Linked DNA regions of Homo sapiens. The protein of the gene in region 3 purifies or fractionates together with the protein of the main gene of each other region. This does not show direct contact. Each region holds a gene or a part of one and is shown on either strand. Other genes may lie near its edges. The genes, in order: CLCC1, TMEM214, SEMA7A and ATP11C.

Region 1 (7,064 bases), on a different chromosome or scaffold from region 3:
GAGAATGACAGTGAGAAGCCTAATTCTCTAAGTGGTTAAGAAGTAGGTGACAAAGGGAGTGTGTAAACTGGAGAGAGGCTCCAAGATGGGAGTGCATGAAATTAAGGTTACGGGAAGGGTTCTTCATAGGCAATGAGGTTATATACTCCATAAATAGAAATGAATGAAGATGGATGAAGACAAAATTTCTAAAGTAAAAAGAGAAACTGACAGATTTCATATTATAATATGATATGAAGTGGACAGAGAAATTAAGAGTAATTTGCATTTCTAACACTGTGAGGAGGTTAGGATGGGGGAAACGGAGATTTGGAGGGGAAAAAAGGTACTACAGGAGGCATTATACAAAGGGAAGTGAATAAAAAGCCTGTCAAGCAGTTGAGATTTTTTTTTCTTTTTTATAGAGACAGGGTCTTGCTATGTTGCCCAGGCTAGTCCCGAACTCCTGAGCTCAAAGGATCCCCCTGCCCGCCGCCTTGTCTTCCCAAAGTGCTGGGATTACAGGTGAGCCACTGTGCCAGCCAGGCAGTTGAGTTTTGACTGTGACATCCACAAAGTCGTACTATTGGCAACTATGTTACTTTCTACAGTAATAACCAGCAGTTCCATAGATTTCTCCAGGGATAGAGATTAGCAATGCAGAAATGATGGAAGACAGGAGGGTAAGACAGAATAGAAGAATCAGCTAGAAATTCAAGCCCTCCTGCCAGATCCCCATGGTCACTGATTGAAGGCTGGAACTCCTTGAGAAATCCTAAAACGAATCTCACACTTCCTCCAAACAAAGCTACATCTAAACCTGCTGAAGAGTTTGTTAAAAAAAAAAAAAAACGATTCTGATTCAGTAAATCTGAGGTAGGTCTGAGATCTCCACTTCTAACAAGCTCCTGGTGATGCCGCAGACCACACTCTTGAGTAGCAAAGTGTTAATCGAAAGTAACCATCCTAGCTAGTTTCGTTTAATGGTGGCACCTATGTCATTCTAGTACTTGTCAGGGGACACTACTCTTTCTCTCTCCCGCAGTCCCTACTATTTTTACCATTTCTCTCCTGTCTCAGGCTTCGGTACTAATAATTTTTAAATTATAATATGTATAATAGTAGCTAAAGGCCGGGCACGGTGGCTCACGCTTGTAATCCCAGCACCTTGGGAGGCCAAGGCGGGCGCATCACCTGAGGTTGGGAGCTCCAGCCCAGCCTGACCACCATGGAGAAACCCTGTCTCTACTAAAAATACAAAAGTAGCAGGGCGTGGTGGCGCATGCCTGTAATCCCAGCTACTCGGGAGGCTGGGGCAGGAGAATTGCTTGAACCCAGAGAGTGCAGGTTGCGGTGAGCCGAGATCGCGCCATTGCACTCCAGCCTGGGCAACAAGAGCAAAACTCCGTCTAAAAAAAAAAAAGTAGCTAATATTTTGTTACTATGTGCTAAGCACTGTTACATTAATTTAATCCTCACAAAACTACTGGAAGTAGTACTCTTATCTTCACTCATCTTCATTTTACAGATCACACAAAGTAACTTGCCTAAGACCACCAAGCTAGTAAGTGGTAGAACCCAGACTGGCTCTACCTAAACTGCCTCTCCAGGGCAAAAGTACTAATGGCTCTCAGGGGCTTCTCTGAGAGGATAGGGTCTTAGAGTGGAGAGGACCTGTTGGAACGACATCTCCACAGAGCGGGAAATAGGGAGAGTAGTTTATAGTAGCTACTAGACTGGAGAACTACCAGGAAACACAGATCGTCGTGCAGACGGCCAGGCAGTGAGTAGAAATGGGCACAAAAGAAAAAGTCTTTGGTTTCAACGAAAGCACATGAGTAATGGGAAAGGCAAGACTAACCTGGATTAGTAGAGTCAAATCCTGTTTTAGACTAGAAGTACCAGGGTATAAGTCGGGAGGCTGCAACTTATTTCGTATGCTTATGCAGTTTCTTGGAACCATGGCTCTCAAACTTGCGAATTTGCATTTTTAACAATTTCCCAGATGACGATAAAGCTAGTCTGGGAAGAACACTTCATAATCACTATTATAAAGAAAACCTGAATTGTTTTTCACCACCCAGTAATAAACCTACAGCTTATGGTGTGTCTAACTTTTTACACTCAAATCAGATTTGGAGCCAGGCGCAATGGCTCACGCTTGTAATCCCAGCACTTTGGGAGGCCAAGATGGGAAGATCCTTTGAGCCCAGGAGTCAGAGACAAGCCTGGACAACACAGGGAGACCCCTTCTCTACAAATAAAATTTACAAATTAGCCGGGCCTGGTGGCGCGCACCTGTGGTCCCATCTACTCAGGTGGCTGAGGCAGGAGAATCGCTGGAACCCGGAAGGCGGAGGTTGCCGTGAGCGGAGATAGCACCACCGCACTCCAGCCTGGGTGACACAGCAAGACTCCGTCTCAAAAAAAAAAAAAAAATCCATTTTGGAGGTTGTTTTGTGTCCGTTTTTGTTGTTGTTGTTAACTGTGTTAATTCACAGATTTGAAGTTTTAGAAAATTAACTACAACTAAATCCGAGCTATTCTGCTGACAGCATTTATTCAAATTATGCTTAAAGTTTTCAGAGATAACCAAAGCCAACAGAATTCAACGTGCGCTCAGGTCTCGCTTTGCCCTCGCTGTGCCTTCTCCGTAGGCCGCTCTCTGGGCCAAGCACCTCCCCGGAACGCGCGCAACCGCGGCGGACAGGCAGCCGCCGGCGCGGGAGCTGAGGTAGGAGCCCGGGGCACCCACAGGCCGCAGCGGACGCACGCAGCTAGCACGGTCCCCGCCCCGGGTCGCGCCTGCGGCCTCCCCAGCGTCTGCGCCGCGAGTCCGCTGGACCCGCCAGGGCGTAACGGCGGGTAACCCGCCCCACCCGCCGCACAACACACCCAACTGCACGGACTCACGTCCGGGATCCCCTGCCTGCCTCTCGAGGAAGACACCTGCCCAGGCCGGCCGCAGAAGAGGTCGCACAGCTTGCCGCCGCCCAGGGTTTCAGCGTGCTTCCTGGGCCTCGTCATCGAATTGTTCGGCTGACGGCTGCGTGTCCCTCCCCCGTTGCGGGCCGCTGATTGGCCTCGTTGATTGGGCGGGGCTAGTAGCGGGACCGGCCTCTGCGCGCGGGTTATTTTCGCCGCGGATTTTCTTTTACTTTTCATCTGCGGAACTCTTTCTGCGAAGGAAATCTCGCCTGGAACTCAAATATATACAACGGATAGGAAACCTATTTTCTTACTATTAATATATTTGATAAGTTTGAATGTGTAACATTCGCCATGAAACGCAAGCATGATTTTTTTTTTTTTGAGGCAGAGTCTCACAGTGTTGCCCAGGCTGGAGTGCAGTGGCGCGATCTCGGCTCGGCTCACTGCAACCTCTGCCTCCCGGGTTCAAGCAATTCTCCTCTCTCAGCCTCCCGAGCAGCTGGGACTACAAGCGCGCACCACCACATCCAGCTAATGTGTATTTTTAGCAGAGACAGGGTTTCACCATGTTGGCTAGGCTGGTCTCGAACTCCTGACCTCAGGTGATCCGCCCGCCTCGGCCTCCCAAAATGCTGGGATTACAGGTGTAAGCCACCGCGCCTAGCCACAAGCATAATTTTTTAAAGGGAGGATCACGAATGACAACTGTAGTTCTACTCAGGGCAGGACAAGGGAAAGGTCTGCACACTGTAGGGCAGTTGGAAGTAGTTTTGTTTTTGTCTTTAACTGCTGGCCTTGCAATCTCGGGAAACTGTGAAGATGGTAAAATTTACTATCTTAACCATTTTTAAAGGTACAATTCAGTGGTATTAGATACATTCACATTGTTATGCAACCATTACCACCATCCATCTCCAGCACTCATCTTGCAAAACTGAAACTCTGTACCCAGTAAGTGGTAACGCCTCATTCTTCCCCTCCCTCCTTCCCAGCGACTACCATTCTTTCTGTCTTTATGAATTTGACTACTCTAGGTATTTCATATAAGGACTCATACAGCATTTGTCTTTTTGTAACTGATTTCACTTACCATAATGTCCTCAAGGTTCATCCATGTGGTAACGTGTCAGAATTTCTTTTAAGGCTGAATAGTATTCCATTTTATGTATATACCAGTTCATTCAGTCATCTGTTAATGGATAACAGGTTGTTTCCACTTTTGGCTACTGTGAAATAATACTGTAAACATGGATATACAAATATCTGTTTTTTAACCCTTTTGGGTATACACACAGATGTTCAAATATCTGTTGCTTTCAACTCCTGAATATATATACACAAGTGGAATTGCTGGATTATGTAGTAATTCTATTTTTAATTTTTTGAGGATCTGCCGTACTTTTTTTTTTTTTGAGATGGAGTTTCACTCTTGTTGCCCAGGCTGGAGTGCAGTGGTACGATCTCGGCTCACCACAACCTCTGCCTCCCGGGTTCAAGCGATTCTCCTGCCTCAGCCTCTTGAGTAGCTGTGACTACAGGCGTTTGCCACCATGCCTGGCTAATTTTTGTATTTTTAGTAGAGATGGGGTTTCACTATGTTGACCAGGCTGGTCTCGAACTCCTGACCTCGTTATCCACCCACCTCGACCTGCCAAAGTGCTGGGATTACACGCATGAGCCACTGCGCCCGGCGGAACTGCCATTCTCTTTTCCATAGTGGCTGCAACATTTTACATTCCCTCCAAGAGTGCACAAGTTCCAATTTCCCCACATCTCCACTGACATCTTTTTATTTTTGTATAGTAGCCATCTTAATAGGTGTGAGGTATCTCACTGTGGTCTTGATTTGCCTTTCGCTAATGACCAGTGATGTTGAGCATCTTTTCTTGTGCTTATTGGTCATGCCATTTGTATATGTTTGTTGGAGAAATGTCTATTCAAGTCCTTTACCCATTTGTTTTGTTTGTTTTATTTTGTTTTGTTAAGAGACAGGGTCTCGCTTTGTCACCCAGGCTGAAGTGCAGTGTCATGATCATGGCCCACTGCAGCCTTGAACTCCTGGCTTTGCCCATTTTTTAATGGGTTTTTGTTGTGTTTTGGTTCCTTATATATTCTGGATATTAACCACCTTATCAGATAGGATTTGCAAATATCTTCTCCCACTTTTTCTTTTCTTTTTTTTTTTAGAGACAGGGTCTCCCTGTATTGCCCAGGCTGGTGTCAAACTCCTGGGTTCAAGTGATCCTCCTGCCACAGCCTTCCAAAGTGTTGGGATTACAGGCATGAGCCACCATGCCCGGCCCCATCTTCTCCCTCTTAGTGGGTTGCCTTTTCACTCTGTTGTGTCCTTTGGCTTCTTACTATAAAACGAAAATAAAATTCTAAGCCCCCCAACCAACTGAATAGGCCCATCCTCTCAGCCAAGGGCATTCTAAAGTAAACCTGAGGCCAGTTGCAGTGGCTCATGCCTGTAATCTCAGCCCTTTGGGATGCCAAGGCAGGTGAATCACTTAAGGGCAGGAGTTCAAGACCAGCCTGGCCAACATGGTGAAACCCTGTCTCTAGTAAAATCACAAAAATTAGGCAGGCAAAGCGGTGGGCCCGTAATGCCAGCTACTTGGGAGGCTGAGGCAGGAGAATCGCTTGAACCTGGAAGGTGGGTGTTGCAGTGAGCTGAGATCATGCCATTGCACTCCAGCCTGGGTGACAAAGCGAGACTCTGTCTCAGGAAAAAAAAAAAAAACAGAGACCTTAACACTGACACACTTTGTAGCAGTAAGATACCAATGTGACAGCAGGTCCATCCCCCCACCCCCACCTCTGAGTTGTCCCATCTTTCTGAACTGAACCAATGTATATTTAACATGTATTGATTGATGTCTTACGCTCCCTAAAATGTATATAAAACCATGCTGTAGCCCAAACACCTTGGGCACATCTTCTCAGGATCTCCTGAGGCTATGTCATGGGCCATGGTCACTTAAATTTGGCTCAGAATAAATCTCTTCAAATATTTTACAGAGTTTGACTCCGTCGACATTACAATTTTGGAAAAGTAAACATTTTAAAAATAAAATTTGGGGGCAGATGTGGTGTCTCATGCCTGTAATGCTAGCATTTTGGGTGACCAAGATGGGAGGACTGTTAAGAGGCCAGGAGTTTGAGACCAGCCTAGGCAACATAGTGAGACACCCATCTCTATAAAAAAAATTAGCCCCACATTGTGGCATGTGCCTGTAGTCCTAGCTACTCGGGAGGCTGAGTGAGGCAGGAGGATCATTTGAGCACAGGAGTTCTAGGCTATAGTGAGCAAGACTTTGTCAATATAACACAATGCAATAGAAAAATTAAACATTTTAAAAATAGAAATAATCTCTCAACTTGAGGCAACACACACACACACACACACACACACACACACACACACACACACATAAAATTGGAACAGACCTCTAAATGTCCTCCCTGGGAATAATTAAGAACCTCTGCACTACCCATCCACCCCAATTCCCCTTCCTTGCACTGCCAAATGAGATGGACCCCAAGAGTATAGATACTTCAGTCCTCTCATTTTCTCTTTTATGTGAACCTCAAAGAACCTAGTCACCCCATGCAGAAGACATGTGGAGACAAACAAAAAAGGACATATGTAACCAGCTATTTACTGAAGCAAATATAACAATTTCTGGTGCTTATTATTTTGAGAGGGAGTCTTGCTCTGTCGCCCAGGCTGGAGTGCAGTGGCACAATCTTGACTCACTGCAACCTCCACCTCCCGCATTCAAGCGATTCTCCTGCCTCAGCCTCTCGAGTAGCTGAGATTACAGGCACATGCCACCACAGCCGGCTGATCTTTTTTTTTTTTTTTTTTTTAAGACAGGGTTGCACCATTGTTGACTAAAAGAGTCAAACTCTGTAAAATATTTGAAGAGATTTATTCTGAGCCAAATATGAGTGACCATGGCCCGTGATACAGCCCTCGGGGTCCTGAGAACATGTGCCCAAGGTGGTCAGGGTACAGATTAGTTTTACATATTTTAGGGAGGCATGAGACATCAATCAAATACATTTAACAAATACATTGGTTTGGCTTAGAAAGCCGGGACAACTCAAAGCAGGGGCTTCCAGGCTATAGGTAAATTTAAACATTTTCT
Region 2 (7,210 bases), on a different chromosome or scaffold from region 3:
TCCCCTGGAGAGATACACATTCTCACACCTACTCACATTATTTGGCATCCCAAACCTGAAATCTCCCATTTGTCAGCGGTGAGCCCAGGCCCCAGGTCCACTGACTCCTAACTTCCTCCACACTTTCCAAAAAGTGTTAAGGTTAGCACATTTCTCTGCTGGAAACAGAACCACTGAGTGGTACTGGAAGCAGGAAAAAAAGGAGGAGGCTCCCAAGATGGTCATCCCTCCCGTGCCCCTTTCACCTGGTGTCTTATCCAGCTCTTGCAACATGGTGAACAGACAGTGGTCAAAAAAGAGCTCCAGAGACCCTGCTGCCTTCGCCAGCAGCCCTCGGATGATCCCACGTAGCTCCCGGCTCACCAGGCTGTAGGGATAATCTAAGGCCCATAGGCCTCAATGTGAGTGCTAGGACCAGACACCCATCAGCTCTGAGAACTGTGGTGCTCTCCCTGGGAATGGTGAGTGGAGGCAAAGGCCCCTGCACTGAGGCTGGGATCCTTCCTCTGAGGAGGCCCAGAGGGAGGATCACAGAATGAGGCCCAGAAACATTCACAGTCACGATGATTTGAGACCAGCCCAAATCACCCATGGAAATCAGGACAGTGTGGGGCACTGGGATCTGTTATACCACCCTTTTTGAATTTATTTGAACTTGTCTGAGCTTGAGGAAGCTGGAAGGACTTACCATGAGTATGCTGGCTCAGCGTGGGTTCACTTAGAGGAGCTTGTAGCTTGTAGTTGAGATAGCTGGCCAGGTCCTTCAACCATATGGATGGGTTTCCAGAGAACACACTCTGGCTCTTGTCCAGTTCCTTCTGCAGGTCTGCCACATCCAGCTGCCAGGGACAATCCCCCAACCCCCCACCATGGCGAGTTGTGAGTGAGGGAGTAAAGAAATGGGGTAGGGGTGGGAAAATGGTTGAACTAGGTGGCAGTAGGAAGAAGGGATTCCATTTTTAAGCATAAGAACATGGAATGCTGCAATTCTGCTGTACCTACATCTTTAAGAATGGAACAGGACAGCTGAAAATGCTGATCTCAGGCCCTATCCTCTCAGGCCCTCCACATGTTCAAGAGGAAAACAGAGGGCCAGGCGCGGTGGCTCACGCCTGTAATCCCAGCACTTTGGGAGGCCAAGGTGGGCGGATCACCTGAGGTCAGGAGTTCAAGACCAGCCTGGCCAACGTAGTGAAACCCCATCTCTACTAAAAATACAAAAATTAGCCAGGCGTGGTGGCAGACGCCTGTAATCCCAGCTGCTTGGGAGGCTGAGGCAGGAGACAGAGGTTGCAGTGAGCTGAGATCACACCACTGCACACCAGCCTGGGCGACAGAGGGAGACTCTAACTCAAAAAAAAAAAAAAAAAAAGAGGAAAACAGAGGACAAGACAGAAAATGAAAGATCAGTATTTCCATAGGACAGAGAATCATAACCAGTTTCTCCATCTCCTCCCTGGTGTTCCTGGGTCTTCAAGGCTTTCCTCTTACCAATCCATGTTTCCCTATAAATTTTCCATTTCCTTTCTATTCTAAGTGCAGGCATTCTGTTCCCCTGGGGTTTCCATCTTTTCCTGAACTCCTCTCAACCCTTAAAGTGTTTCAAATCCCATAGGATCTCAGCTGCCCATCCACCTCCCCCTCCTCTCATCTTCTCTAAATCTCAAGCCCCCATTCTTTCTGCGTCTCATGTCTAGGCACACTCACAGCTTTCAGTGCTTCCTCCAGGCTGCGGAAGCGGCCCTGCTTCTGGTTTTGGTTGGGAGGAGTTGCCACCTTCTTTGGCTGCTTCTTGTTCCCTGGTTTCTTAGGTTCCACAGCAGGGGGTGGGACCTGCTCCTTATTCTGCCGCTTCATGATATTCTCAAAGCCCCGCTCATAAAGGGTGCTTGTGGTCTGGATTGCAGCTGGGGTGAAGATAGGTAGAGAAAGGCAGGCCACCCTTGAGTCCCCAAGGCCTCACCTATCAGTGGTCCCTTTCCCCACACTGCCACCTAATTCATCTCCAGGGAAGAGCCTGTCTCAAAGCCCCTTCCTCTTGGACTGCTTAAGGAGCAGGGCAGGCTGTTCTCCTGGTAGCTTCTTTCATTACAGCTCTTGAGTCTATGGGCTCTTTCATAAAGATGGGGCAGTTCTTCATTAGACAAATCAGAGTATGTAGGAACAAGCAGAGAGGTTGGATATAGAGGTTTGCCTTATTCAGTGAGTGGCTACTAGTCTGGGAAGACAAGCTTTTTCCATCTTGGTCCTACCCTAACGCCTCTTGGTTCCGACATGACAACTCTATAATCAACAAGTGGCAATCTTTCTCCACTCCTCAGTGGAAGAACCAGGTGTCACTTATAATTCCTGGTGAGTGTTGAGTGTGTGGCGGTCATTTCTCCCACTGCTGGGCCTCCTGTCCCTTCCTCCATGACCTGCTGGTTACTTAAAGAGGGGGCACCGTGTATAATGATCCACAGTACCTCTTCAAAGCTCAGACACCTGCCCAGAGAGACCAGCTAGGGCCCTGGGCAGCTGGGAGAGTGTGTGCAGTGAACTGAGAGTCTGAGGACCGGAATCCTAGCCCCTCTGACACATGACCCTGGCCAAGGTATCCAACTTCACTGGGCCTCAGTTTACTCATCTGGGAGGTGAGGACCGCAACCTTCCCTGGAGCTGTCTGCCTCCCGTGAGGCTCCAAAGAGACAACGCAAGCGTGGCGCTCGGGGATGTGCCTGCGAGCTCGCGCCCAGGTTCTGGGAGCCGCTCGCTGCGACCCTGCCGGACAGGCCTGGGGTAGGCGGCGGGGCAGGGCGGGTACTCACGGGTCAGGTCGTATTTCCACACTCCGTTTGCTTCCCCGAGCGCCCTGCGGTTCCTGCCGCCTCCTCGGCCGCCGGCGCCGGCGCCGACCCCAGGCCGCCGACCCTTCTTCACTACCTCCCACCGCCCCACGCCCGCCGTCTTGGTCGCCATGGCTCGCAGCCCTCCCTCCTCGGCCACTTCCCCGGCTTTCCGGTCCGGCGCGAGCGCGCCGCACTCTGCCACGTCTCCTCGCAGGACCGCGCGCCCGGCGCCCGGCGCCCGCCGCAAGGCAGCCTGGGACTTGTAGTCCCTCTCCTGGGCCGGGCTCTCCTGAGCGAAGAGCATCGGGAAGAGGCTTCCGCGGCAGCCTGCGGCCCCCGCCCAGGCGAAGAGGCCGGGAGGAGAGGAGATTCCCTTCTGAGAACGTTCATTGAGCGTCGATGTGAAGGCCACGGCATTGAGAGACTTGGTAGAACTGTTTCTGTTTTTCTTTCCTTTATTGATCAATTGATTGATTGATTGCCAGGGCCGCGCTCTGTCGCCCAGACTGGAGTGCAGTAGCGCGATCTCAGCTCACTGTAACTTCCGCCACCCAGGTTCAAGCGACTCTCGTGCCTCAGCGTCCCGAGTAGCAGGGACTACAGGCTCCCGCTGCCAAGCCCAGCTAATTTTTGTATTTTTAGTAGAGACGGGGTTTCGCCATGTTGGCTAGGCTGGTCTCGAACTCCTGACCTAAAGTGACCCACCCCACCCCCACCCCTCAGCCTCCCAAAGTGCTGGGATTACAGGCGTGAGCCACGGCGCCCGGCCACTGTTTTTCTTTCCTTTCTCGTAGAGCTGGAAGGATGGAAGGGAAGTAGTGCTCCTCATATCTAGGGAGAGATTGAAGATTAAATGCTTCCTTCCTTCTAGGAAAGTGCTGGCTTTACTGTTGCTAGTGATTAAACCTCGGGTTTAATGGGCTATACAAATCTATTGCCAAAGAACAAGGAAGAGGATGGGGGCTTGAGGAAAGGGCAGAGTGTTGGGGAGCTGGGGTAGGAGGTGGAGAATGGAGAATAATTTTTTTTTTTTTTTTTGAGACAGGATCTTGCTTTGTCGCCCAGGCTGGAGTTCAGTGGCGCGATCACGACTCACTGCAGCCTCAACTTCTAGGGCTCAGGTGATCCCCCACCACGGATCACCTGACCCACCACCACCCCCGGCTAATCTTTGGTATTTTTTGTAGAGACTGGGTTTTGCTGTGTTGCCCAGGCTGATCTCAAACTCCTGGGCTCAGTGATCCACCCTCTTCAGCCTCCCAAAGTGCTGGGATTACAGGAGTGAGCCACCGCTCCTGGCCTCTGAGTTCTTCTCATGGGAGGCTGAGAAAAGTCTGGGGGTCTGGGACAGCCAGGGCCGGGTTTCCCCTTCCAGGCAATGAGAAAGAACAGGCTCTGCCTCCCACCATAAGAGTCAATCCCAAGTTCCAGATGTGTCAGGGAAGCGATGGAGAGCCCCAGACTTGAGGCATCTGCAGACAGGTTCCTGCTCAGACATCCACGTGGAGGGTGTTAGTATCCTGGGAGCCTTCAGAACCTTGAAGCATGCCAGCAGAGGAGAATGAGGGAAGATAAAATCAAAGTGACTTATCACAATTAAGGAAATGTGCTATTTCATGTACAACTGTGTGTGAGGATGAGATTCCTACCTGCCATACTGAGGTATTATGATAAGAACTAAGAGAGTCCAAATTCCTACAGGATGAACAGCTGAGGGAGCGATGCATTCCTTAGGAAGGAGTTTAGCTTCCCGAAGGAGACGGCAGCTGAGATAGGTTCTGAGAAATAGCATTTTCATTGGTTCCCCGGGCGCCGTGGCTCACGCCTGTAATCCCAGCACTTCGGGAGGCCGAGGTGGGTATCACCTGAGGTCAGGAGTTCGAAACCAGTCAGGCCAACATGGTGAAACCCCATCTCTACTAAATACAAAAAAGTAGCCAGGTATGATGGCGCAGGCCTATAATCTCAGCTACTTGGGAGGCTGAGGCAGGAGAATCGCTTGAACCTTGGAGGCGGAGGTTGCAGTGAGCCGAGATTGTGCCACTGCACTCCAACCTGGGCAACAAGAGCTAAACTCCGTCTCAAAAAACCCAAAACAACAACAACAACAAAAAACAAAATTGAATGTTCACTGGCTGAGGGTTAGGGTGGGTGGAGAGAAAATGCCAGTTGTGTGGATCTGTTGATGTAAAACAAAGGCCTAGAGGGTGGTAAACTGGAAGCAGTTCAATGGGACAGTGCTTGATGGGACTTTGGAGGTGATGAGGTTTGATATAGTTTGGATTTTTGTCCCTGCCCAAGTCTCATGTTGAATTGTAATCCCCAGCGCTGGCAGTTGGGCCTGGTGGGAAGTGTTTGGATCATGGTGGTGGATCCCTCATGGTGGATCCCAGTTCTCATGAGATCTGGTCATTTAAAAGTGTGTGGCACCTCCCCACCACCTCTCTCTCTCGCTCGCTTGCTCGCTCCTGCTTTTACCATGTGATGTGCCTGCTCCCCCTTTGCCTTCCGCCATGATTGTAAGCTTCCTGAGGCTTCCCTAGAAGCAGATGTCAGCATTATGCTTCCTATACAGTCTGCAGAACTGTGAGCCAATTAAACTTCTTTTCTTATAAATTACCCAGTCTAGATGTTTCTTTATAGCAATGCAACAATAGCCTCTTATGAGTTTGGAAAGGGATCTGAGCCCATATGCCAAGGAACTTGCCTGCCAAATCTGGACTTTATCCTTCAGGCCCTGGGAGACCAGTGAGAGGGTGGCATAATCCACTCTTTTGGAAGGGTAAATGTGGCTGTGTGAAGTGTTGGTAGGGGAAGGCAGGGGGTGGGAGATGAGCATATCTTGCTGCCTCCTTCTACCTGTCCTCCAGCCCCCTTAGGCCTGACCATGGCTGACTTTGCATCCGGTAGCTCTGAGATACAGTGCCTTTGCCAAGGACCATATTTGAACTGATCATTAATCAATTCATTTTGCAGATCATTGGTTTAGGTGTACTCAGGAGACCAACAACAATATCTTCTCTTTGTTTGACCCCTCCTGTGTCACATGTATGATCACAGAAGAGACCATGTTTTTGGAAGAGAAACAGAACTGGCTTTCCATTGAGGCAAATGAGGGGGCTGCCCCATGGTGGAGACACACAGAAGGGTGGGAGAGGGACTCTATCTTTCATTGGAATAGTCTAGTAAGTTACCAGTTCTAACTTGGCATCTAGGACATATAAATCATGCATTTACTTATCCAGCAACCTTTTCTAAGCACCTTCTCTGTGTCAGGCCCTGTGCTAGGTGGAGCTGGAAGATATAGCTCACTTGCTTGTAAGGAACTTGAAGTCTGTGTGGGGGACAAATGTATAAACAGAAAATTACAGTTCACCATCTTAGTGTTCCAGAGGAAAGAAGCACTTAGTATGAGGTACCAGGAAGAGGTGGGGAGAAGGGAGTGGCTTTACATCCTTAAGTTCTGGGTGTTTGAAGAGCAGCCTTAGACACTAGCCACGGAGGTGGGCTTGGGTAGGCCCCGCCGTGGGGTTTGAAGACCCAAAAGATGTTGGGTCAAGGAGGACATGGGTGTCTAGTGTGGGAGCAAGCAGAAGGGTGAGCTCACCGAAGCACTGTTTTACCCACTGTACTACGTTTCTATTGCTGCTAAAACAAATTGCCACAAACTTAGTGGCTTAAAACAAGGGCGTTATCTTCCAGTTCTGGAGGGCAGGAGTCTAACTCAGGTCTCCCTGGGCTAGAATCGAGGTGTCAGCAGGGCTGGGTTCCTTTCTGGAGGCTTTGGGGGAGCATCCATTTCCTTGCCTTGCCCAGCTTCTAGAGGCCACCTGCATTCCTGAGTTCATGGCTCCCTTCTGTCTTCAAAGCCAACAACAGTGGGTGAGTCACTCTCACATTGTTTCACTTTGACCTCTTCTTTTATTTTTCTGAGACAGGATCTTGCTCTGTTGCCCAGGCTGAAGTGCAGTGACATGATTATGGCTCACTGCACCCTTGACCTCCAGGGCTCAAATGATCCTTCCATCTCAGCCTCCCAAGTAGCTGGGACTACAGGCATGTAGTACCATGCTCGGCTAATTTTTCTATTTTTTGTAAAGATGGGGTCTCGCTGTTGTCCAGGCTAGTCTCCAACTCCTGCGCTCAAGTGATCCTCCTGCCTTGGCCTCCCAAAATGGTGGGATTACAGACATGAGCCACCACACCCTGCCCACTCTGACCCTTTCTGCCTCCTGCTTCCACTCTTATAAACGTTTGCGATGACATTGGACCCACCTGGATAAACCAGGACACTCTCCCTATTTTAAGGTCAGCAGATTAACTTCCTGAATTCCATCTGCAACTTTTTTTTCTTTTTTTTTTTTTTTTGAGACAGGGTTTCA
Region 3 (7,419 bases):
GGGCAGGTTGAGACTGGGGATATGGGTTCTGTTTCCCCATGGACAGGCTGGTTCACCTCTGACCTTGGGGTTCCAAGCCTTCTTTAGCTCCTCCAACCACTGATAAAATGGAAGAGGGGTGCACAGCTTACAAACGCATGCCAACCTCCTGCTAAGCCCCAGCCCTCACCTGCAATCTACTCCCTTACAGTTCCTGCTTACAGGAAGATCAGGACCACACATGCACATCCTTGACTGGCCCATGTGTCAGTGACAGCCCTTGGGGGACAATCCCTACAGCCTTTCTTGCTCTGGCAGGCTCTAAGGGTCAAAGACAAGTGTGGAGCTCAAGGACACCCAGCAGGTACATGATGGCCCATCTCTCTCCCTGGCCTGAGCTACGCTGTGCCAGACTTTCATCAAGCTGCAGAGGCAGCAATCTCCCTGATCAGTGCAGGCTGGGCCCCTCTCAGAGTTCCCTGCTTTAATCTTTCTCTAGAACTTGGGGATCCAAGCAGCAGAAAATAAAGAACTTTCCATACCTATTCCAGTCCCCACAGCTGTCCTGACTCAAAACTAAAACCCCCATCTATGCCTCATAGAGAAATGGCTCCAGAACCACCACCATCCCTGATTTTGTCATTCCTGGATACCACCATACTCCCACCCACCACTGGTAGACAGAGCTCTAGGCTTCCAGAAAGACCCCCTCTTACCCTGTTCCTGGGTTTGTCCTACCCAAGCCCATTCCTGTCCGATTGCCATGTGTCACCCCACAGGAGACAGGAGGCAGCTGTCAGTCGGGCACACCATCACCAGCTGGTGGCCCTGGGGGTGGGGGGCAGGTGAATGGCAGGGCCTGTCTGGCCAGTGGGGCACCTGGCACTGGTGAAGGAGACCACAGACTGTCGTTGGACAAGACTGGTGAACGGTTGGCAGACCCCAGCCAGCGGGGCTCAACAGTGCATTACTAAGCAGAGGGCACAGCCAGTGTGGCTACAGCAGTGAACTGCGGGCGGGGGGGTAGGCCATGGAGCTGTGCTGGGAGCTTCGAAAAGTGGGTAAGAGGACTGAAAGCAACTTTAAATAGCCTCAGGGTGGGAACTAAGTGCCCAGGATGGGATGTATGCATTAAGTGCTAAGAAGTGGGTGTGCATTAAGTGGGGTGGGGGTGGGGGGTCATGGGAAGACTTTGGGACAGGCAAACAGAGTCAAAATGCAAGGGGTTTGATGGAGGGAAAGATTCCAGAACACTCAGATGTGGCCATTTGTCCCCTCCAGAGTGCCCACACGCTATGATGTCCAAGACAGCCAAGGAGACTGAGGGAAGGCAAAGCTGCTGGGAGGGCAAAGGAAGCTTGGGCTGGAGCTGGGATGGCAGAGGGGTGTGCAGGCCTCCTCCATGTACAGGCGGCCGGAGCTCTAGCAGCACTGCTCGGCTTCCTCCAGGAGCACCTCAGGCTGGGTAGCCGAGCTGGTCCCCAGAGCACCTCATTCATGGTCCCTGAACCACCTAAATCCTTCTCCCCTCCCTAACCCAGAACCTGGACTGGTCCTGTGCCAGATCAGAGCCCCTGCCTGCACCTGGGCTCCCACACTGCTCAGTGACCTTGGGCAAGTCACATTCCCTCAGCTACTGCGGCAGTTCGGGCCACTCGTTTTGTGTATGGTTTTTTTTCCCCTCTGCTAATAATACCTGCCCCAGATAATGCTCAGACTCCCGCAATCCCTGCAAACTGCCAAAGGCATCAAAAGGCTCCCGGTGGGGCCAGACCCGACCAGTTCCCCCAGCCCCCACTGCGAGTCCCCCACCATCACGACAGGGGGGCCGCAGACACGCCAAATTTGGGGACAGAGCCGAATCGGACTGGGGGCGGGGAGGCATTTGTGTGCAATGCAGGGGAGGGGAGATCAGTTCCTCGCGGCAGAAAGCCTCAAACCCCCGCCTAACCGGCTTTCTGTCCCATAGTACAGGGTCTAAACTGAGGTGCCCTGGGGGAGACTCCAGTCCCCCAGGTTCTTATTATCTACCCTGGCCTAAAGGCTGCACCCCCGCCCTAGATCCACCGCCTGGGGGTCCCAACGGCCGTGCCCCACCCAACGGGCACTGCCCCCCAACGCTGGAGCCGATTTCTGGTGACAACTGCCACGTGCGGGCAAGGGGGGAGCGGCCGGTCCCGGCATTGCTGAGGCAGCGCCCTGGTACCCCAAGCCGCCGCACCGCACCATGTCCCGCCGCTCGCTGCAGGATGCCCACCCCCTTGCCTGGCCCGAGCTCCGGGCCGGGGCGGGGGCGGGGGCAGGCGGCGGGGTCTTTGTTCCCGCTGCCGAAGCGCGGCGGCGGCGGCAAGGGGTCCGCGCCCCCCTTGCCGGCCCAGCCTGCGCCCCGCGCGCCAGCAGAGCCCGCAGCTCAAAAGGAGGGTACCCGGGTTGGGGTCCCAGGCGGGGAAAGGTCCTCCGCCGAAGCCCCCGAGCCAGAGGACCCAGAGTGGCTCGGGGCCGAGAGAGGGGCCCGCCCCCTCCCCTGGCGCCCGGGCGTTGCGGCTCCTGGCTGCCAGGGACTTGGTGCGACTTAGCCGGGGCTCCGGCCCCCGCCGCTCGCTCGCCGCAGCGTTACAGCCGGCTCTGGTGTGCCAGCGTGTACACTCACACACACTCACCCAAACCCACACGCTCCACGCGGGGACAGCGCGGGGACAGCCCGGGACCCGCAGAGCTGCGCGCACGCACTCCCTCCGGGTGCAGCACACTCCGCACCCGCCCCGCGCAGCGTCTGATCCCGCGCCTGACCGGCCGCGCGGCGCCGCCTACCTTTCCAGACGGCGAAGATGCGGGGTCCGCTCCTTAGGTGGCCCTGGGCGGAGGCGGCGGCCGCCCAGAGCAGCAGCAGCAGCCGCAGCCGCAGCGGAAGCCCCAACCGAGCCGGCGGGCCAGGGACGCGGGCGCGCGGTGCGCTGGGGGCGGCACGTCCGGGCGGAGGAGGCGTCATCCCGTGGCCCCGGGAGCGACAGCGGCAATCAGCCGAGACTGAGCCAGCGCCCGGCCGCAGGCAGACCCAAGCGCCAGGAGGCGGAGCCAGCGCTGACCCCACCCCGCCCCTCCCCCCGCCCCTCGCAGCCTTTTCTCGCCTCACTGGCTTTCCTGAGCGAGAGCGGAACTGCTGGGGGAACCTTCGCCACCCTCTCCCGGGCAACTCTACGGGGAAAGCCCAGCTGCGGACAAGCCAGACTTGTGGTCTTCTGCCAGGGGCGGCAGGCCCTATCCCCTCTCTGGGCCTCAGTTCCACTCCCCGCACCCCGTAAAAAGATTGGCGTAGAAGTCGTGGAGGACCTCTCTCCAAGGGCGCAGAGGAGTCCAACACCCAACAACCTTGCTATGGCCAGCTAAGTGGTTCGCACCCTGAGGACTATGGTCCTCGGAGGATGCGTTCGCCTAAGTGGACACGGCTCCCTGCTGAGCCTACCAGCAGGCACAACGATGATATGTGGGGAGCACTCAGGGACCCGCTGTTGCTTTGCCTGGGAGAACACTGGAAATTTTTCATCTTGGCCTGGCTCCTTCCCCTCCCTCTCCTTTCTCCTCCCTTTCCCAGCCAGCAGCCTTCTGGGCTGCCTCCCCCCAAGCCAGCTGGTGTACGCTCAGAAAATCCAAACTCATTTCCATGTGAGTGGAGGGGGATATAATTAGGAAGGCCCCTTCCCCAAGTAGAGAGGGGAGCATCCCCCGTGCCCCACTCACTGTGGGGGAGGGAGGGTCAAAGCAGCTTAAGGGGATCTCTGCCCGCAAAGTGCCTAGGGCTCAGCTATCTCAGGCAACCTGACCATTCAGTGGGGACTCCCTTGGGGGGTCCAGGCCCAGACCCTCTGCAGTTACCTGAGCAGTCCAGCCAGCTCTGCCATCAGCTCCTCCTCTCAGAACTACGTGCCTGCCCTTTGTAAAAGGGTCTCCTCTCTCTAGACCAGACAGGGCCCAGACCTACCACTTCCACTTGTGCCCCAGGGAACCATGAATGGAAAATCCACCCAGCTCAGTAAGTACTTATCTAGTGTTTACTGGATGTCTAGCTGCACTGAGAGGAGACAGGCCGAGGAAGGAGTAGAGGTGAACATCCAACCTTCAGAACTCACAGACCTAGACACGATTCACGCACTGCAGACACCAGCAAAGGCGGTGGGCTGGCTGCCCTCTGCCCTCTGCCCTGCTCCATGGGGCCAGGACCATTTGGTTGTTGTTTTTACCTCCTGGAACCAGGAAAGTTTTGCTACCAAGAAGTTTGGCTTTACCATTCTACATTTTGCTTCCAGTTGTCCCCTCCTTCTTCCCTCAGAGTCCTGAGGCACCCCAGCAGGCCAGGAAGGTAAACTCAAGGTACCTCCAGAGACAGTGCAGAGTGAGGTTCCTGGCCCACTGGGTGAAGCCAACAGCCTCCTGATACACAGGGGCACACTGCCCCAGAGAGGGAGGCTGTGGACAGTCTAAGAGCTCCTCCTCAGGCCTGCACCTAAGCCTGTGGCCCTGAAGCCAGCAGTGGAGCCTGGCCCAGGCCAGCCTCTAAGATGGACATTCGGTTTCACCTGCTAGACAGGTATTGCCCTCAGTGTCTGTCCTCTCTATGCAAAGCTAGGGCAAACTAAGAAATCACCTGTCTCTGCCTTTTGGAACTAAGAATTCAAATGGATTCAAAATCAATGATAACACTGCCCATGTGCATGGCAACTCACAACACATAACCCACATTCACCTACCTCATCTCTGCCAGTCCTCCACTCTCTTCCTCTCACTGAGGGAGGGAGCGTAACTCCACTGCAGAGAAGAAAACTGAGGTACAGGGAGGGACAAGGACGGACCTGCCCGAGGTCAACCGGTAAATGGTAGAACGAAGATGGGTTTTCTGACTGCAATAACAATTGCTAACACTGTGGTTCCTATGTGCTGTGCCATCTCATAGCCTCTCCCAACTCATTCAATCTTCGCACTCCTATGAGATAGGAGCTATTAGTCACCTCCCTTTACAAATGAAGAAATCAAGGCACAGACAAGGGATGTGAAGTGCCAGGATCGCACAACTAGAGGCAGGACGGATTGAAACTCAGGTGGTTTCTCAAGGACCCACACCCTTGACTTCTCTCTGTGTGATGTACCCTGGCACTGCTGCCTCCTGTCTGTGGCTGAAGTCTGGGTCCAAACCATCCCCAGAAGGACCTAGATAGGGCCCAGGTCACCAGGTGCTGAGTAGGAGGGCAGACCAGGGAATGGGCTCAATCTCCCAATCAACAGAGTAGCAGATGGAAACTGGGGTAGATGCCAGATAATTTTTTTTCCAGACTGGGGGGTAGGGGGGAAGGAAGTAGTACTTAAGACCATCCTCCCCACAAGCCAGCCAACCTGGGGACAAAGGGCCAGGCGAGATGGCAGCCCACTCTCTCGGTTGGCTGCAGGCAGCCAGGGGAGGAGAGAACTAAGCCCATGACTTGAGGCAATAACTTTATAAAGGGAAAGGCAGCTAGACTGTGGGGCAGGCACTATGACCAGAGTTTAGGCATGGACTTTCCTGCCTCAGGCAGCATAGGAAAATCAAGTCAGAATGGTATAGGTGGTGTCAGAGGCCTGCCTGCCTCATTGGAGGCCAAGGCTGGCTCTTGAGCCTGGACCAAGAACAGGGGCACAATTCCCACTCACAGCCAGTGATGGGAAGTGGACCAGCAGAGGAAGCAACACATGTGGATGCTGACACGTCTGATGGGGAGGCACATTCTTGTCCCTCCCTTCTCCATGATTCCACATTCAGGGGAGGGAGGAAGAAATGATGCAGGGCTTCTATCGATAAGAAAAATACCTTGAGAAGGATCACTTCCTGAGCCCCATGGACAGCTGAGGCACAGCCCAATCCAAGAAGGCTCCTTTTGGAATGAAAGAAATGGATACACACAGACCTGAGATTCATGGTCTTGAAGCAGTGGCAGAAGCCCCGGGCAATCCCCCCAACATTCCAACTAAAGCCTCTCACCTTTCAGGGTCCAACTTAACTCATCCTTCCATTCTCCAGAGTTATCTGACCTCCTCCTCAGCCCTGATTCCATGGCTACACATGGCCTTCACAGGAGTGACCCACCTCAAACAAGAGGCCTGTGGGAGATAGAAGGATTCCGTGAGGAGATAACATATGCAGACGTGAGGTCACCCACACACAGTTCACTTCCTTTCACAGATACGATGATCCAAGAATCCCAATTCTTAGGATTAGAAGTAGCTCTCAGAGGGCATTCAATCCCCAACAGCCCCCTCCATGCTAGATCCCACCCCTTCTTTGAGGCCTCAGAGCTTGGTGGCCATTCAGACCTCCTGGCTACTAACAGCAGCAACAATTCCTATTGCCTACCACCATTACTACCTATTGCAGGGGGCAGAGACTTGGAACTGATGAGAACGAGGGGAGTGGGTGGGCTGGGGTCTGCAGAACCCTGTGCTGTCTATAAGGCAATTTCGACTCAGCTCCAGCCCATGGAACCATGAAGAAGTAAACCCAGTAGTGAAAGGTAGTATGATTTTCAAGAGAAGCTGAAAATTGAGGGCTGGGCACGGTGGCTCATGCCTGTAATCCCAGCACTTTGGGAGGCCAAGGCAGGTGGATCACCTGAGGTCAGGAGTTCAAGATCAGCCTGCACAATATGGTGAAACCCCATCTCTACTAAAAAATACAAAAATTAGCCGGGCATGGTAGCGAGCGCCTGTAATTCCAGCTACTTGGGAGGCTGAGGCAGGAAAATCACTTAAACCCAGGAGGCGGAGGTTGCAGTGAACCAAGATCGCACCACTGCACTCCAGCATGGGACACAAGAGTGAAACTCTGTCTCAAAAAAAAAAAAAAGAAAAGAAAAGAAAAAAGAGGCCAGGGGTGGTGGCTCACGGCTGTAATCCCAGAACTTTGGGAGACCGAGGTGGGTGGATCACAAGGTCAATGATTTCTGTCCTAATCATTCTACATGCATTTTTATCTGACAAGGTCAGGAGTTCGAGACCAGCCTGGCCAAAATGGTGAAACCCCATTTCTACTAAAAATGTAAACATTAGCCGGGCATGGTGGCACGCAACTGTAATCCCAGCTACTTGGGAGGCTGAGGCAGGAGAATCACTTGAACCTGGGAGGTGGAGGTTGCAGTGAGCTGAGATTGCGCCATTGCACTCCAGCCTGGGTGACAGGGCGAGACTCCATCAAAAAAAAGAAAAGAAAATTGACTCTTTGTTGAAACTCTCTCTTTTAAAATATTGGCAAATAATTCAAAAGTTAAGGAGGATGGATATGGGCAAATAAAAACAGGTCTGGGGCCCATATCTGGGACCCCCAACATACCATGTGCCCACTGTGACTATCTCACAGGCACAGGCACGACAGTCACTATACCTGGCCCAACTCTTGGCAGACCATGTCAGGCAAGGAGT
Region 4 (7,023 bases), on a different chromosome or scaffold from region 3:
AATAGTCACTTTTTTTTTTTTTTCCTGAGACAGAGTCTCACTCTATCACCCAGGTTGGAGTATAGTGATGTGATCTCAGCTCACTGCAACCTTTGTCTCCTGGATTCAAGCAATTCTTGTGCCTCAGCCTCCCAAGTAGCTGGGATTTCAGGTGTGTGCCACCACACCCAGCTAATTTTTGTATTTCTAGTAGAGACGGGGTTTCACCATGTTGGCCAGGCTGGTCTTGAACTCCTGAGCTCAAGCAATCCTCCTGCCTCAGCCTCCCAAAGTGCTGGGACTACAGGCATAAGCCACCGTGCCTGGCCAATAGTCACATTTTTTTCTATTCATCTTTTACATTTGAGTAGATCTACCTTAGACATGTGATAGCATTTTGGTGTCTTTAAAAATACTCATTTATTCCTCATTTCTTTGGTAATATTGTCTCTGTAATTCCCTGACATTTGACAAGAAGTCTTAGAAGGGGTGATTTCCTATGGATATGAAAATAGCTTTGCGTTACAGCAAACTAAAAATTAGTCACACTGAAGAAACTAACAATATATGTTTGTGTCCTTGTTTTAGGTGGATTATGTATTTACAGATAAGACTGGAACACTCACTGAAAACAGCATGGAATTCATTGAATGCTGCATAGATGGCCACAAATATAAAGGTGTAACTCAAGAGGTTGATGGATTATCTCAAACTGATGGAACTTTAACATATTTTGACAAAGTAGATAAGGTGCATTTGCATTATTGTTTTATATAAGAAACCAATCTGTGTATGCATGTTAACATTCCATAGTAGAAAATAATTTTTAGGTGGACACATGACATAGACTTTTGTGTTTTTGTTTTTTTTTTTTGAGATGGAGTCTCACTCTGTTGCCCAGGCTGGAGTACGGTGGCATGATCTCAGCTCACTGCAACCTCCGCTTCCCAGGTTCAAGCGATTCTCCTGCCTCAGCCTCCCGAGTAGCTGGGATTACAGGCGCCTGCCACCATGCCTGGCTAATTTTTTTGTATTTTTAGTAGAAACGGAGTTTCACCATGTTGGTCAGGCTGGTCTCAAACTCCTGACCTCAGGTAATCCACCACCCTCCGTCCCCCAAAGTGCTGGGATTACAGGCATGAGCCACTGTGCCCAGTGACTTTAGAATAACTATTGTTGGATTCACCTTTCTTGTTTTACTGACACTTCTGAAATTTGTAAATGAGTAGAATTTACAAGTAAAGAGAATTGTGGGAAATGACATTTGGGTAAAAGCTTGCTTGTCTGTATGATCATAATTTTTTGTGCTTTGTCTTTTAAAATGTAAGCTCCTCCAAGAATGATGTCTGTTCAAATGATTAAAGTCTCAGGAGTGTCTAGGCATTAAATTAACCAGAGTCTCCCTACACTTGAGCTATTGCTAGATTGTGAATTAGATACTGAATGAAGTTTTTTAGGCCATGAAGAAGTCACTGCTTTGGCTTAGGTGGTGCCACAATAACCTTAATGAGTTAACACAGCCTATAGGGTATGCTAGCTGAGAACCAGGAACTCTTATTAGGTACTAGGAGAATATATAGCAGATTTGAGTGTTAAGAATTTATACGTATCTGCTACTAAGTTTGTTAGAAGTTACAACATTCTCTCACATTAATATATTTTCTCCGTTCACTGCCTAGTTACCGGGTGATCAAATTAAAAATAATAATCATTATTTTGTTGCTGTTCCACAGAATCGAGAAGAGCTGTTTCTACGTGCCTTGTGTTTATGTCATACTGTAGAAATCAAAACAAACGATGCTGTTGATGGAGCTACAGAATCAGCTGAATTAACCTATATCTCCTCTTCACCAGATGAAATAGCTTTGGTGAAAGGAGCTAAAAGGTAAAGTATACTTTCTTATACTTCTCCTAAGAAAGTGAAATCACAGGAGGACAGAAGTTATTTGTTTTTTTCCGTTTGCTTCAGTGACCTTAGCACATACATCTCCTATTATTTAATAAAAAACACAACTGCTTTAGCCAAAAATTTGTGGAAAATTCCCACACCTAACCAGTTAAGACTAAAAAGAAAATAGTTACAGGTAGGTATTACTTGCCTTACTATTTATGCATGCCAGCCAGAAGTCTGAATGTTCATACTATGTTTTGCAAATAACATAACAGTGGCCACTTTTTGTACAACACATGTTATTTCTGAGGTGCTCCCAGCAATTTTGACATCATTTGAGAACCGAAAGTCCAGTTTTACCCATGAGGTTCAAGATAATTAAGTGGCTCAAAGGTCACCCAGTGTGTTAGCCGTAGAATCAGAAACCCAAATTGTCTCTCCCTTGGTTACAATAATTGTGGCTGGGCATTGACTTTCTCTGTTATCAACTTATCCAGGAAAAGAAAGTACAGTTATATGTTGAGATCATATGAAAGAGAAGAAAAGCATAAACAAGCATGAGTTACCCCATTGAAAGTAATCATTCTAGACCAGGTGCGGTGGCTCACGCCTGTAATCCCAGCACTTTGGGAGGCCAAGGCGGGTGGATCACCTGAGGTCAGGAGTTCAAGACCAGCCTGGCCAACATGGTGAAACTCTGTCTCTACTAAAAATACAAAAATCAGCCGGGTGTGGTGACACACACCTGTAATCTCAGCTACTCAGGAGGTTGAGGCAGGAGAATCGCTTGAAACTGGGAGGTGAAGGTTGCAGTGAGCCGAGATCGCGCCACTGCACTCCAGCCTGGGCAACAGAGCGAGACTCTGTCTCAAAAAAAATAATAATAAAAAAATTAATCATTCTTTAGAGATACACAAGGTCTTTTTTATTGTTTTTGATAGGTACGGGTTCACATTTTTAGGAAATCGAAATGGATATATGAGAGTAGAGAACCAAAGAAAAGAAATAGAAGAGTAAGTAGCTCTGTGTTTGATGTTTGTCATTTCTTAACCCCATAGTCAAATTTAAGTGGATTCAGGCAGGGCAGCAAAGGAAATGATGCCACTAAAAATACAGGACCCTGCTCTCCCAGTTCAGAGTTTTATGTAAATATAGTTGGGGTAGAAGCCATGTTACATAGAATTGCAGAAACTGGAGTTTGAGGTGGAAATTCCAATCTGGTTCACATCTGGGTCCAGTAGCCAGAATGAGAGTTTGCCTGGAATGTTTCTCAAATTTAGATGCCATTTCAGGTCTCTAACACATGCTACAGGAAAAATCAGTGAATATATGTGAAACCTTCTGCTATCTAGTGTCCAAGCAATCACTCTGGGATTGCAAGCCCAGGCAATAAAGGCAGCTTTGCTGTAAACCAGAAGCCTTGTTTGGTTCGGAATGTTCAGGTGTGAGCCTCGGGGCAAGTACTCTGATGCTCCAGTGTCTTCACATTTCCTCTTTTGCCACAAAGACCCTAATGAACAAAGCCACCTTATCTTAATGGTGGATTTTAATTAGGCTCTGTGATTAATTTGAATTTCCTCATCTGAACTTGAAATATAATTATGTTATCTGACTTTCATTCTGGCCCCTAGGATCTCCTGAGACCCATCTCAGAAACCTGTAATATGTTTACAGGTACTTGGGTAATGCACCCTTTTGGAGAGAGATTCATAGAAGCCCAGAGGAAGGTTCTTGGTCTGACTGACAGGGACCCAGGGTCATTGTCAGAGTTTAGATTCTAGCCCATCTGCAACAGTGCCCACATCTGGCCAACAGCAAACCAGATGCCATGTTAGATGTCTTATACATATACTCCCGCAAGACTAATGACCCCCTCACTCCCACCAAAACAAGCTATGTAGTAAATACTTTTTTTAAAAAATACTAGTTGTTTATTTTCAAGGAAATATTTCCTCTCACTTTTTCTAATAACCAACTCTTATTTTAACTCTTCTGTGTCTCTCCATTGATTAGTTCAGCCATCCACACACACATTTGACCAGTCTCATCATGTCATTCCACTGTTTAAACCCTTTTATTGGCTTTCTTTTGCTCTTACAATACAATCCCAAATTCCAGAAATGGCTCACAAAGATGTGTTTCCAGCCCCTGCTTACCTTTCTTGCTTTATCTCTTACTATTCCCCTATTGATGAGTTTTTTGGGCATTGGTGAACTACTTAAAGTCTTCCATGGGCCATGTGCTCTCATGCTGCCGTGCTCATTCCCTCTACTCAGAATGCCATGGCCCCCTTTCTTCATCATATTACCCTTGCAGAACCCAGCTCAGGCATGTCCTCTTCCAGGAAACCTCCTTTCAGATGACTTCCTTCTGTGTTCTTATATCTTCCCTGTAAGTGCCTTTATTACAGTATTTGAGAAACTAGAAGGGTAGTTATCTCATTATGCTCTGTCTCCCTTATCATATGGTGACCCGCATAAGGGAAGGGACTCAGGCAGATTCACCTCTATTCCCCAGCACCTAGCACTGTGCCTGGCACTCCATACATAAATGCTGCTAAAATAATTGGCAGAGTGGGACTGTTTCTAGACCCCTCCAAATATGGCTTGGTGGGACAGCTCTTTATCTTCCATTTTTATGTGGTCATTCTCCTTACCATTTTAAGTAATATACTGAGGGGCTATAAATACCCCTTAACTAACACTGGTGTCCTCTGACAGCATGTTCTATGTTCAGAGAAATTCTGAGACAAAGGAAAGTACCAGTTGTGCACACAACCAGTGCTATCTGTTGATTTAAGATGTTTAAATATCTTAACATATTTCTGTTGTGCTTTATTTTTCTCAGTATATTCTAGGTTTTTTACTTTGCTCATTTCTCTTAAAGATATGAACTTCTTCACACCTTAAACTTTGATGCTGTCCGGCGACGTATGAGTGTAATTGTGAAGACTCAAGAAGGTACATGTCTGAAAAGCTTGAATTTTTCTCTTTGTTGATTTGTAGGCTTATTGGTTGATTCACTCTTTCAGGAAAGAGAATCATTTCATGTAGTAGTGTAGGATTAGTGAAAGTCATGCAAAGCAGTAGCTTTTGCATATGCTTTCATGTATTTTTTTAAGCACAGATGTTCTGTTTACCAAATTGTTAGTGACAGAACCCTTGTTATGACAGGGTGTGCCTTTTCTTGGTAGCAGAACCATATCCCTCTGCCTTGGGTGTTCGAACAGGAACTGAAAGGATGACTTTTATATGGTTCAGGGTACTGACCAGTCTACCAGTAATGTTTACATGCAGCCACCCAGCATAGTTGGATGGTTTGGGATTACTAGCAGCAGAATCCTTGAGTATAGGGAGTTGCTTGTTATCCCTCACTGACCTTCCTGGTTCCCCTACTGCTTGACACTCCCTGGAAACAGGTGAGGTAGAGAGGACTAAGGGCCTGGTTTCTGGGAAATGGCATTGCAGTTTCACTCCAGAGCTCAGGTTCTTTGTTGAGCAGAGTAAAGCTTGCCCTTTGCAGGGGAACTGGTACTGTAATCCTGGGCTCCCTCATGTCTTTGGAGGCACCATGGTGGTTTGCCTTCTGCTCAGATTCTGCAAGACCCATGGGCGAGCAATCCTGCTTTATTCGAAGGCTCTCAGATACGTGTGTGTGTGGTGTGCCGAGGTGGTTTGTTTTCTAAAAATTTTTGATTTATTTCCCAGTAATTTACGTTTTACTATTAAATTTTCTAAATTCCTTAATGTCAGAATGGGAGGATACAGACAGATCCTTGGGGGAACATATCCCACTTAATTCATACTTTGTGGTGTGATTGCAAAGTCATGAAATTGATTTTAATAAGTGACCATGGAGTTTGTTTTGTGAATTTTAAAATACACTTTGGATGTGTAAGAATAAATGAAAAAAAAAACACAACATTTCAAATACTTGCTATTCTTATGTGTGCATGTCCACATGTTCTACAGCAAATGGTGAAATGTCTGTGGAACTGGTCTACAAAGGTCATTGACCTCAGAGCTACACTTTTTAATTTGTTGACCTCGGTTGTTTCCCTTATAAGGATAAAGTGTCTGTCTTAGTGCACAACTGTGAATATTTCCTGGGTGTGTGAAGTGATCTAAAGCTGCAATTATACCAGCATTCTACAAAGCTATTCTCATCAGTAAAAACTATCAAGCCATTGTTTTAGAAGCTAGTTAATATAGTTTATTCAAAATTATTTCAGCTTGTTTGAGCTTGAGCTTTCTTCTTGACATCTGTAGATGCCATATGTGTGCTCTAGGCCATGGCTTCACTGCATTTTTTTTTTTTTAAGACACGGTATTACTCTGTCATCTAGGCTGGAGTGGCAAGATTATAGCTCACTGCAGCCTTGACATCCTGGGCTCAAGCAATCCTTCCACCTCAGCATCCAGCGTAGTTGGGTCTATAGGTGTGTACCACCATGCCTGGCTAATTTTTTAATTTTTAGTAGAGTCAGGGTCTCCCTGTGTTGCCCAGGCTGGTCTTGAACTCCTGAGCTTAAGTGATCCTCCCACTTCAGCCTCCCACAATGCTGGGATTACAGGCATGAGCCACTGCACCTGGCATACATTTTCAGAAGAAATTCAGATGCAGCTCCTTGACACAAGCCCAGCCCTCCATGAATTGGTGGGAGGAAGTATATTTTAACAGAGGTGCCTATTGTAAACTCTGGCTTATTAATTGTGTTCATAATGACCTTGAAGAGGTGGTACATGCCTTTCTGACAGACTGAAGGCCAAGATTTCTCATTCCATTTAGGTGAGTATTGCAAGGTGTGCTCAGAATATACAACACTTGGGTGAGAGAGACCGCTTTAAAAGTTACTCTTACTAAAACCACAATACCAGCCTTAAAATTCTAAGTCAAGTACTATGGTTCTTTATTTTAGGAGACATACTTCTCTTTTGTAAAGGAGCAGACTCGGCAGTTTTTCCCAGAGTGCAAAATCATGAAATTGAGTTAACTAAAGTCCATGTGGAACGTAATGCAATGGTGAGCCTATACTCCTTCCCCCACCAATAAGTAAGCAGAGAAATGTTGAAAATGACTATGTTTATTGGATTTCTGTTTAAATGACAGTTTAAATACATTTTAGCTTATTTTTGTGGTCTATGTTTTGTATT

What was found.
Region 1: the proteins of SEMA7A (region 3) and CLCC1 purify together in Homo sapiens (affinity purification with mass spectrometry; 2 studies listed by BioGRID and IntAct, with this or other methods). This does not show direct contact.
Region 2: the proteins of SEMA7A (region 3) and TMEM214 purify together in Homo sapiens (affinity purification with mass spectrometry; 2 studies listed by BioGRID and IntAct, with this or other methods). This does not show direct contact.
Region 4: the proteins of SEMA7A (region 3) and ATP11C purify together in Homo sapiens (affinity purification with mass spectrometry; 2 studies listed by BioGRID and IntAct, with this or other methods). This does not show direct contact.

The regions. Positions count from the first base shown.
Region 1 is NC_000001.11:108,960,469-108,967,532, forward strand, and holds the start of CLCC1 (chloride channel CLIC-like protein 1 isoform 1 precursor), read right to left. Parts: upstream 3,017-7,064; 5' UTR 2,893-3,016; intron 2,002-2,892; 5' UTR 1,841-2,001; intron 1-1,840. UniProt on the Homo sapiens protein: Anion-selective channel with Ca(2+)-dependent and voltage-independent gating. Permeable to small monovalent anions with selectivity for bromide > chloride > nitrate > fluoride.
Region 2 is NC_000002.12:27,028,764-27,035,973, reverse strand, and holds the start of TMEM214 (transmembrane protein 214), read right to left. Parts: upstream 3,010-7,210; 5' UTR 2,959-3,009; coding exon 2,808-2,958; intron 1,908-2,807; coding exon 1,708-1,907; intron 840-1,707; coding exon 689-839; intron 381-688; coding exon 246-380; intron 5-245; coding exon 1-4. UniProt on the Homo sapiens protein: Critical mediator, in cooperation with CASP4, of endoplasmic reticulum-stress induced apoptosis. Required or the activation of CASP4 following endoplasmic reticulum stress.
Region 3 is NC_000015.10:74,430,951-74,438,369, forward strand, and holds the start of SEMA7A (semaphorin-7A isoform 1 preproprotein), read right to left. Parts: upstream 3,009-7,419; 5' UTR 2,969-3,008; coding exon 2,791-2,968; intron 2,755-2,790; exon of another isoform or gene 2,640-2,754; intron 1-2,639. UniProt on the Homo sapiens protein: Plays an important role in integrin-mediated signaling and functions both in regulating cell migration and immune responses.
Region 4 is NC_000023.11:139,783,033-139,790,055, reverse strand, and holds part of ATP11C (phospholipid-transporting ATPase IG), read left to right. Parts: intron 1-567; coding exon 568-729; intron 730-1,712; coding exon 1,713-1,864; intron 1,865-2,811; coding exon 2,812-2,883; intron 2,884-4,756; coding exon 4,757-4,830; intron 4,831-6,788; coding exon 6,789-6,892; intron 6,893-7,023. UniProt on the Homo sapiens protein: Catalytic component of a P4-ATPase flippase complex which catalyzes the hydrolysis of ATP coupled to the transport of aminophospholipids, phosphatidylserines (PS) and phosphatidylethanolamines (PE), from the outer to the inner leaflet of the plasma membrane.